Homo sapiens: one gene and its partner. The protein of the gene in region 2 interacts with the protein of the main gene of each other region in a pairwise test. Each region holds a gene or a part of one and is shown on either strand. Other genes may lie near its edges.

Region 1 (3,750 bases), on a different chromosome or scaffold from region 2:
TGTGACTAGAGAAGCAATGGGCTCTGGCCATGGGTAGGAGATGCAGCCAAACTAGTGTGAGGACAATAAAGTTGTGGCTGGTTTACTTTTCCAAAGTCCAGTCTGCTCAGTAAACCTGGTTAACATGTGCAAGCGCATCTGTGTCTGCAGCCACAGGGCCCAGGGCCATGGAGCTGGGAAAGGAGGAGAGGTCTAGCCCCTCTGCTTGTGGCTGGGCTGGCGTCATCTTCCCAGAAGCAGTAGCCCTTTCCCATGTTGGGGGACAGGCAGGGCTGGGGCTTTGGGGAGCCAGGGACACGGCTGCACACAGGGACCCTCTGGCTCTGGTCCTGCCCTTTGGGCTCCCTGTCTGTGGACAGGCCCCATAAACCTTGGTGCCTCATGGGACCCAAACAGGTGCTGAGCCCAAGTGGGAACGTGAATTCTGGTGTGAGGATAGAGTGGTAGGGGAAGGCTTTTGGAGGAAGCGGACTTTGAGTTGAGTCTTGCAGAAGGAGGATTTCAGGATGCACAAAAGAGGAACTGGTGTTCTTGGTGGAAGAAATGGACGCGTGCAAAGTCTGGGAAGTGTGTGTGCCCACACGGCTGGCACAGCCAGAGTGTGAGGCCCATGAAGGGGTGTGATGGGATGTGGATTTGGAACACTTGATATTACCATGATTATTGCCCTTAAAGCAGCGTCCACATTGGCCATAACCAATCTGGGCCTTGCTTCCCTCCTCTGTAACCTGGGGAGAATTGCTCTATTTCTTCTTGGGCCCACAATATGCCCTGGCAATAAATGAGTCCTATTTTCTCAAATTAACACATTAACCCAATGCTCAGAGGACACCTTTTACAGTCAGAAAAGCTCAGGCTCAAATCCCAGTTCTGCCCCTTCTTCACTGTGGAACTCCTGGTAAGCTTCTCTCTCTGTTTTTTTCCCCCAAGATGGAGTCTTGCTCCATTGCCCAGGCTGGAGTGCAGTGGCGCAATCTCAGCTCACTGCAACCTCCACCTCCCGCGTTCAAGCGATTCTCCTGCCTCAGCCTCCCAAGCAGCTGGGATTATAGGTGCCTGCCACCATGCCCAGCTAATTTTTTGTATTTTTAGTAGAGACAGGGTTTCACCATATTGGCCAGGCCGGCCTTGACCTCCCAAAGTGCTAGGATTACAGACATGAGCCACCGCGTCCAGCCAAGCTTCTCTTTACTGATCTGTAAAATGGGGATAACAAGCTCTACTCAGAAGGAGTGATCAACATAATTGTACATAAAGGCCGGGCGCAGCATGAGCCTGTGGAAACAGGAGTTCCTCGCCCCCCAACCCTGTCCCCACCTCCATAGAGGCTCTCACTTACATAGGAGGCCAGCAGGGTGGTCGGGGCCAGGACGAGAGCCAGGTAGAGGCAGGGGGCTGTGGCAAGCAGGCTGGAGGCGCAGATGAGGGGCTCAGCTCCTGGAATGACTTTCTTGTACCTCCTCGCAGCTTCTGCCCCCAAGATGACCCCAATGACGCCGGTCATGATGGTCAGTGCCCCAAAAATCAGGCTGATGGGGAAGAGCACAGAAGGGTTGGTCAGCTGGGTGAGCTTAGCATAGGGACTCTTATCCTGCTCCCAGCCCCAGGTCTAGCCCCTCGGCTCAAGTGCATGATCTGGTGTCTACAGGGAATATGGCTGTGGGCCCCTGACCTGACCCAGAACCTTACCCACCCTCCTCACTGATACTCCCAGGGACCAATGTCCCACTGCTCTCCCCTACCCCCTTTCCTGCCTCATCTCCTGTCTCATCCTGGGGATCCCACTGGCCATGTGGGTGATCACCCTGCACCCCAGGTCCCAGCCTGCCTCATCTCCATTGACCCTTACCCTTTCACCCCCCAAAACTGCCCCACTCAAAATCTGAATTCCAGGGTCCCACCCTGGCCCCAACCTTCTCTCTTTCCAGCTCCCAGTACTAAGAGGAATGGAGGGAAGCAAACATGTATTTACTGAGCCCCTGTGATACACCTGGCCCTTGTCTGGGCTCTCTACACGCCCTCCCTCCTTGAATCCCATCCTTCCACTCCCCGTCTTTGAACCCCTCTCAGGCAGCCCCTACCTGACTTCCGTCCCTTTCCCACCCACTTTTAGAGCCACTTCTACTCTGCTTGGCTTCCCCTTGTACATCCTTCCTGTGGAGACCTGTCCCTCCAAAATAACCTCCACAAAGGCTCCCCAGGAGTGCATTTTGTGGCAGGAGATCTGTGGTGGGAGGAGTTCCAGATCAGAAAGATTTTGTCTCTACAAAAAATTTTTAAATCATCCAGCCTTGGTGGCGTGCACCTGTAGTCCCAGCTACTCAGGAGGCTGAGGCGGGAGGATCGCTTGAGCTCAGAAGTTCGAGGCCACAGTGAGCTATGATCATACCACTGCACTCCAGCTTGGGCAACAATTCCCAGATGGATAGGTGAGCAAGGTGAGGCTGAGAAAAGTCAAGGCCAAGATTACCCAGCTGGTAAATTACAGACCAGGATTTGAATATACTTCTTCACCCTCCTGGTCCATTGTGCAACCTCCAGCCCCCTTTTAAAGGAGCTCAAAGGGGACCAGGCAAGGTGGCTTAAGCTTGTAATCCCAGCACTTTGGGAGGCCGAGGTGGGTGGATCACTTGAGGTCAGGAATTCAAGACCAGCCTGGCCGATACAGCAAAACCCCGTCTCTACTAAAAAAAAAAAAAAATACAAAAATTAGCTGGGAACAGTGGTGGGCACCTGTAATCCCAGCCCACTCAGGAGGTTGAGGCAGGAGAATCACTTGAATCCGGGAGGTGGAGGTTGCAGTGAGCTGAGATCACACCACTGCACTCCAGCCTGGGCAAGAGAGCAAGACTCCGTCTCAAAAACAAAACAAAACAAAACAAATAAAGGAGCTCAAAGGGAACGCTGAGACTGTGCCCACTGTGAACTCTTGAAAACACCAGTCCAACCAGGATCTTTCCAACCTCTCAATAGCTCCCTGTCGTCCTCTGAGCAAGCTCCTGACCAGCACTGATGACTCTGCGGGACTGGTCCACGCTGACCGATGTAGCTTGCCCTCTCTTCTCCCACCCTCACTTTGCACAAATGACTGAGAATTCTCTAAATTCTCTACCAAAAGTACAAAAATTAGCTGGGCGTGGTGGTGTGCGCCTGTAGTCCCAGCTACTTGGGAGGCTGAGGCAGGAGAATCGCTTGAACCCGGGAGGCCGAGGTTGCAGTGAGCCGAGATCGTGCTACTGCACTCCAGCCTAGCAACACAGCAAGACTCTGTCTCAAATGGAAAAAAAAAAAAAACAAAGAAGAAGAAGAAGAAGTGCTTTCTAAACCTTCCCAGGCTTCCAAGCTGTGCGAGGTCTGGCTCAGCCCAGTCAAATGACCCAAATCCCGGATGTATGCTAGCTGCCTCTGAGTCCTGGTCTGGGCTGACCTTGGCAGGTTCTCGAGATATTCATGAGACTTAGGATTGATTATTTAGACAGGCTGCCTGAAAATGCACCCCCGCCAGCCCCTAAGCAGGAGGGGCAGCCAGAGGACATGCCCCAGCTACCAAGCCCTTCATGTTCCCTCCATCCACACAGGGCCCTCCCAGCATCACAGACTCTTACAGCCAAGAGAGCCCTTAAGGATCTGTAAGTTCGGCCGGGCACGGTGGCTCACGCCTGTAATTCCAGCACTTCGGGAGGCTGAGGCGGGCCAGTCATTCGAGGTCAGGAGTCCGAGACCAGCCTGCCCAACATGGTGAAACCCCAT
Region 2 (3,750 bases):
TGTGGGGACTGTGCTCCCATTCTTCCCTTTGGCCCAGGCTTGATCTCCCAGGACTGAGGGTACTTGTCTCTAGTTCTATCTCCCCCAGGTTGGAGGATTGGGCTGGGACCAGCTGATAGGAAACCCAGTTGAGGCATGAGCCTGAAAAAACTCTTGAAATACAGACATCTGTGAGTCATTAACTCTGCCTGAGAAGAAACCAGGGACAGCTTCTCAAAGGAGGTGGCATTGCACCAGGGTCTTGAAAGATTTTCTCAGAATATTAGAGCTAAAGGAATATATACATTTTTTTATTTTGGGGTTGGTGTGGGCTGCTCTGGAGGCCAAGCCTGGAGATCAGGGACCTGGGAAGGGGCCCTGAGAGGGGCAGAAGGGAGGAATGTGCCTGGGCGCAGTGGCCACGCCTGTAATCCCAGCACTTCAGGAGGCCGAGGCGGGCAGATCGCTTGAGGTCAGGAGTTCGAGACCAGCCTGGCCAACATGGCGAAACCCCATCTCTATTATAAATACAAAAATTAGCTCGGCATGGTGGCGGGTGCTGTAATCCCAGCTACTCAGGAGGCTGAGGCAGGAGAATCACTTGAACCCAGGAGGCGGAGGTTGCAGTGAGCTGAGACCGCAGCATTGCACTCCAGCCTGGGTGACAGAGTGACACTCAGTTTCAAAAACAAACAAACAAACAACAACAACAAAAAAAAACAGGGATGGGAGGTGGGGAGCAATTTGGGAGTCTCAGATGGAGACTTGGTCTTAGAACTCAGAAATCCCCACCTTGAGGAACCCACGCACCCTGAGCCAGCAGCCTCATCAGCCTCGAAGCATTTATTGAGCACTGCCTGTACATCCACAGGAGGGTGATGACAGGATTGGCACAGTGACCGTCCTGTCCCCTTGTTGGGGGTCTCTCCTCTTCCCCCTCTAGGAGCTGAGGGAGCTGAGGAGCGGCATGAGGGACAGGGAGGGGGCGGCAGAGCTTCCTGGGGCCTCAAGGACAATCCTTTCCTGTACCCATTCTTCAGATGGGGAAACTGAGGCCATGGAGGCGTTAGGACGCCCTGAGTCACCCAGCAGGGACTGAAGGGGTTCTGGGTGGAGGTTAGGACATCTTAGGCTCAGTGCCCGGGGATCACGTACTCCTCTTCATCCATTGGGGCCTGGCCCAGTGACTGCAGGTTACAGTAGACAGGCTGGGAAGCCAGGTCGATGTCCTTGTAGTTGATGTAAAAGTCATTGTCCTCTGAAGGGTGAGCCCTGGGGGGACAGACAGACCAGGGGTAAGTGTGGGAGGGGGAGGACTCAGGGGACAGGCACATGAGCTTTGAGAAAGTCCAGAGTGGGCCAGGTGCTCTGACTCACGCCTGTAATCCAGCACTTTGGGAGGCTGAGGTGGGTGGATCACCTGAGATCATGAGTTCAAGACCAGCCTGGACAACATGATGAAACCTCGTCTCTACTAAAAATACAAAAATTATCCAGGCATGGTGGCACAGGCCTGTAGTCCCAGCTACTCGGGAGTCTGAGGCAGGAGAATCACTTGAACCCAGGAGGTAGAGGTTGTAGTGAGCCGAGATCGTGCCATTGCACTTCAGCCTGGGAGACAGAGCAAGACTCTATCTCAGAAGGAAAAAAAAAAAGAAAGCTTCAGAGTGGCTCAGTCCACCCCGAATATTTACATATGGGGAAACTGGCACGGGCTAGCGTTCTGACTCCTAGCCAACCCCACCTCTCTCTGAGGAGGCTGCGGGAGGGCAGTGATTTAGGGAAGGTTCTGTGGGTGTAACGCTGCGGTCTGAGGACCCTGAACCCTTTTTCCTTCCTTAAAAATGAGATAGCGGCCAGGCGCGGTGACTCATGCCTGTAATCCCAGCACTTTGGGAGGCCAAGGCAGAAGGTCTGCTTGAGGCCAGGAGTTTGAGACCATCCTGAGCAACAGGGTGAGACCCCATCTCTACAAAAAATTAAAAAATTATTCAGGCGTGGTGACGTGTGCCTGGAGTCCCATCTCCTCGGGAGGCTGAGGTGGGAGGACCGCTTGAGCCCAGGAGGTCGAGCCTACAGTGAGCCGTTATCACACCACTGCACTGCAGCCTGGATGACAGAGGGAGACCCCGTCTCAAAAAAAACAGAAATTGAGGTAGCTGTTCATTATTACATTAAAATCTAAATTTTTGTTTCCTCTTGAAAAATCGGAAGCTCTGGCCACGTCAGTCACATGCACACAAGTGGCTGCACCCACACTCTGTGCTCCTTCCGATGGGAAATGTTTTCACCACTGAAGCAACTGACTTTGTGGCCCTCATATATAAAAGCAAGTCTCTGAGCCTCAGTTTCTGCATCTATAGAATTGGTCAAGGAGCAGGTAGCTACTTAGGAATATTTGTTATGGTCAGCAAGACCTCCAGAGAATTTTCCTGCCTCCTGAACATTCTAATTCCAACCCAGCTCCTCTTGTAAAAAGGGCCACTGGGCCAGGTGCGGTGGCTCACGCCTATAATCCCAGCACTTTGAGAGGCCAAGGTGGGCAGATCACCTGAGGTCAGGAGTTCAAGACCAGCCTGGCCAACATGGCAAAACCCCGTCTCTACTAAAATTAGCCGGGTGTGATGGTGGGCGCCTGTAATCCCAGCTACTCGGGAGGCTGAGGCAGGAGGCAGGAGAATCACTTGAACCCGGGAGGTGAAGGTTGCAGTGAGCCGAGATCATGCCATTGCACTCTAGCCTGGGCGACAGAGCGGGAAAAAAAAAAAGGCAAAAGGGCTACTTTGTGTTAACAGCATCTATCAGTCAATTATACTCTAGTACGAATTGCCCACCAACCCCTAAGTGGTTGTAGGGGGACGAACAGGTCTGGGACGCAGGGTTTGTGTCCTGCCTTTTTTGACTGGCTATGTGACCTTGGACAAGTCATTTCCCTGCCTCCCAGAGCCTCCATGTCTGTAACTGTAAGATGCAGGGTGGAAATGACACAGTCAATTCTAAACACAGTGTTTCTGGAGGCCAGTACATAAAGGAGGCTGATCCGGAAGCCTCGGGGACAGGGAGGCCAAGATGAACATCAGAGCACAAGCTGCTTTTGCGAGTCCAGTGTCTTCAACACCCTGCCTCAGACCATTTCTGCTTTTGAGCCATGTTGACATCTGCTTTGCATATTTTCTCCTTTCTCACCAACAGCCTTCCGATAGCCTCCCCACCTCCTGGCACGGACTCTGCTGCCCAAACACAGCCATGGCCGCGGCCCCTTCCTGCTTGGCCCTCCCTGTTCCCCTCAGGCCTCAGCTTTCAAGTCATCCCTTCTCAAAAACCATTCACAGCAAATTCTCTGTTCTTTCCCACCTCTGGGTCTCTGCCCCTGAGGGTCCCACCCCTTGAAATTCCCTCCATTCCCTTTTCCAACCTAGAAAAGCTTTTCTTTTCTTTTTTTCTTTCTTTCTTTCTTTTTTTTTTTTTTTGAGACGGAGTCTCGCTCTGTCGCCCAGGCTGGGGTGCAGTGGTGCGATCTGGGCTCACTGCAACCTCCACCTCCTGGGTTCAAGTGATTCTTCTTGCCTCAGCCTCCCAAGTAGCTGGGATTACAGGCACCCACGACCATGCCCGGCTAATTTTTGTATTTTTAGTAGAGACAGGGTTTCACCATATTGGCCAGGCTGGTCTCGAACTCCTGACCTCGTGATCCTCCTGCCTTGGCCTCCCAAAGTGTTGGGATTACAGGCATGAGCCACCGTGCCCGGCCTAATTTTTGTATTTTTTAGT

The links.
Region 1: the proteins of LRRC25 (region 2) and SPNS3 interact in binary tests that used the Homo sapiens proteins (3 or more experiments, as listed by UniProt).

The regions. Positions count from the first base shown.
Region 1 is NC_000017.11:4,450,795-4,454,544, reverse strand, and holds part of SPNS3 (protein spinster homolog 3), read right to left. Parts: intron 1,530-3,750; coding exon 1,340-1,529; intron 1,197-1,339; coding exon of another isoform or gene 1,089-1,196; exon of another isoform or gene 1-1,088. UniProt on the Homo sapiens protein: Sphingolipid transporter.
Region 2 is NC_000019.10:18,390,875-18,394,624, forward strand, and holds the end of LRRC25 (leucine-rich repeat-containing protein 25 precursor), read right to left. Parts: intron 1,252-3,750; coding exon 1,113-1,251; 3' UTR 263-1,112; downstream 1-262. UniProt on the Homo sapiens protein: Plays a role in the inhibition of RLR-mediated type I interferon signaling pathway by targeting RIGI for autophagic degradation.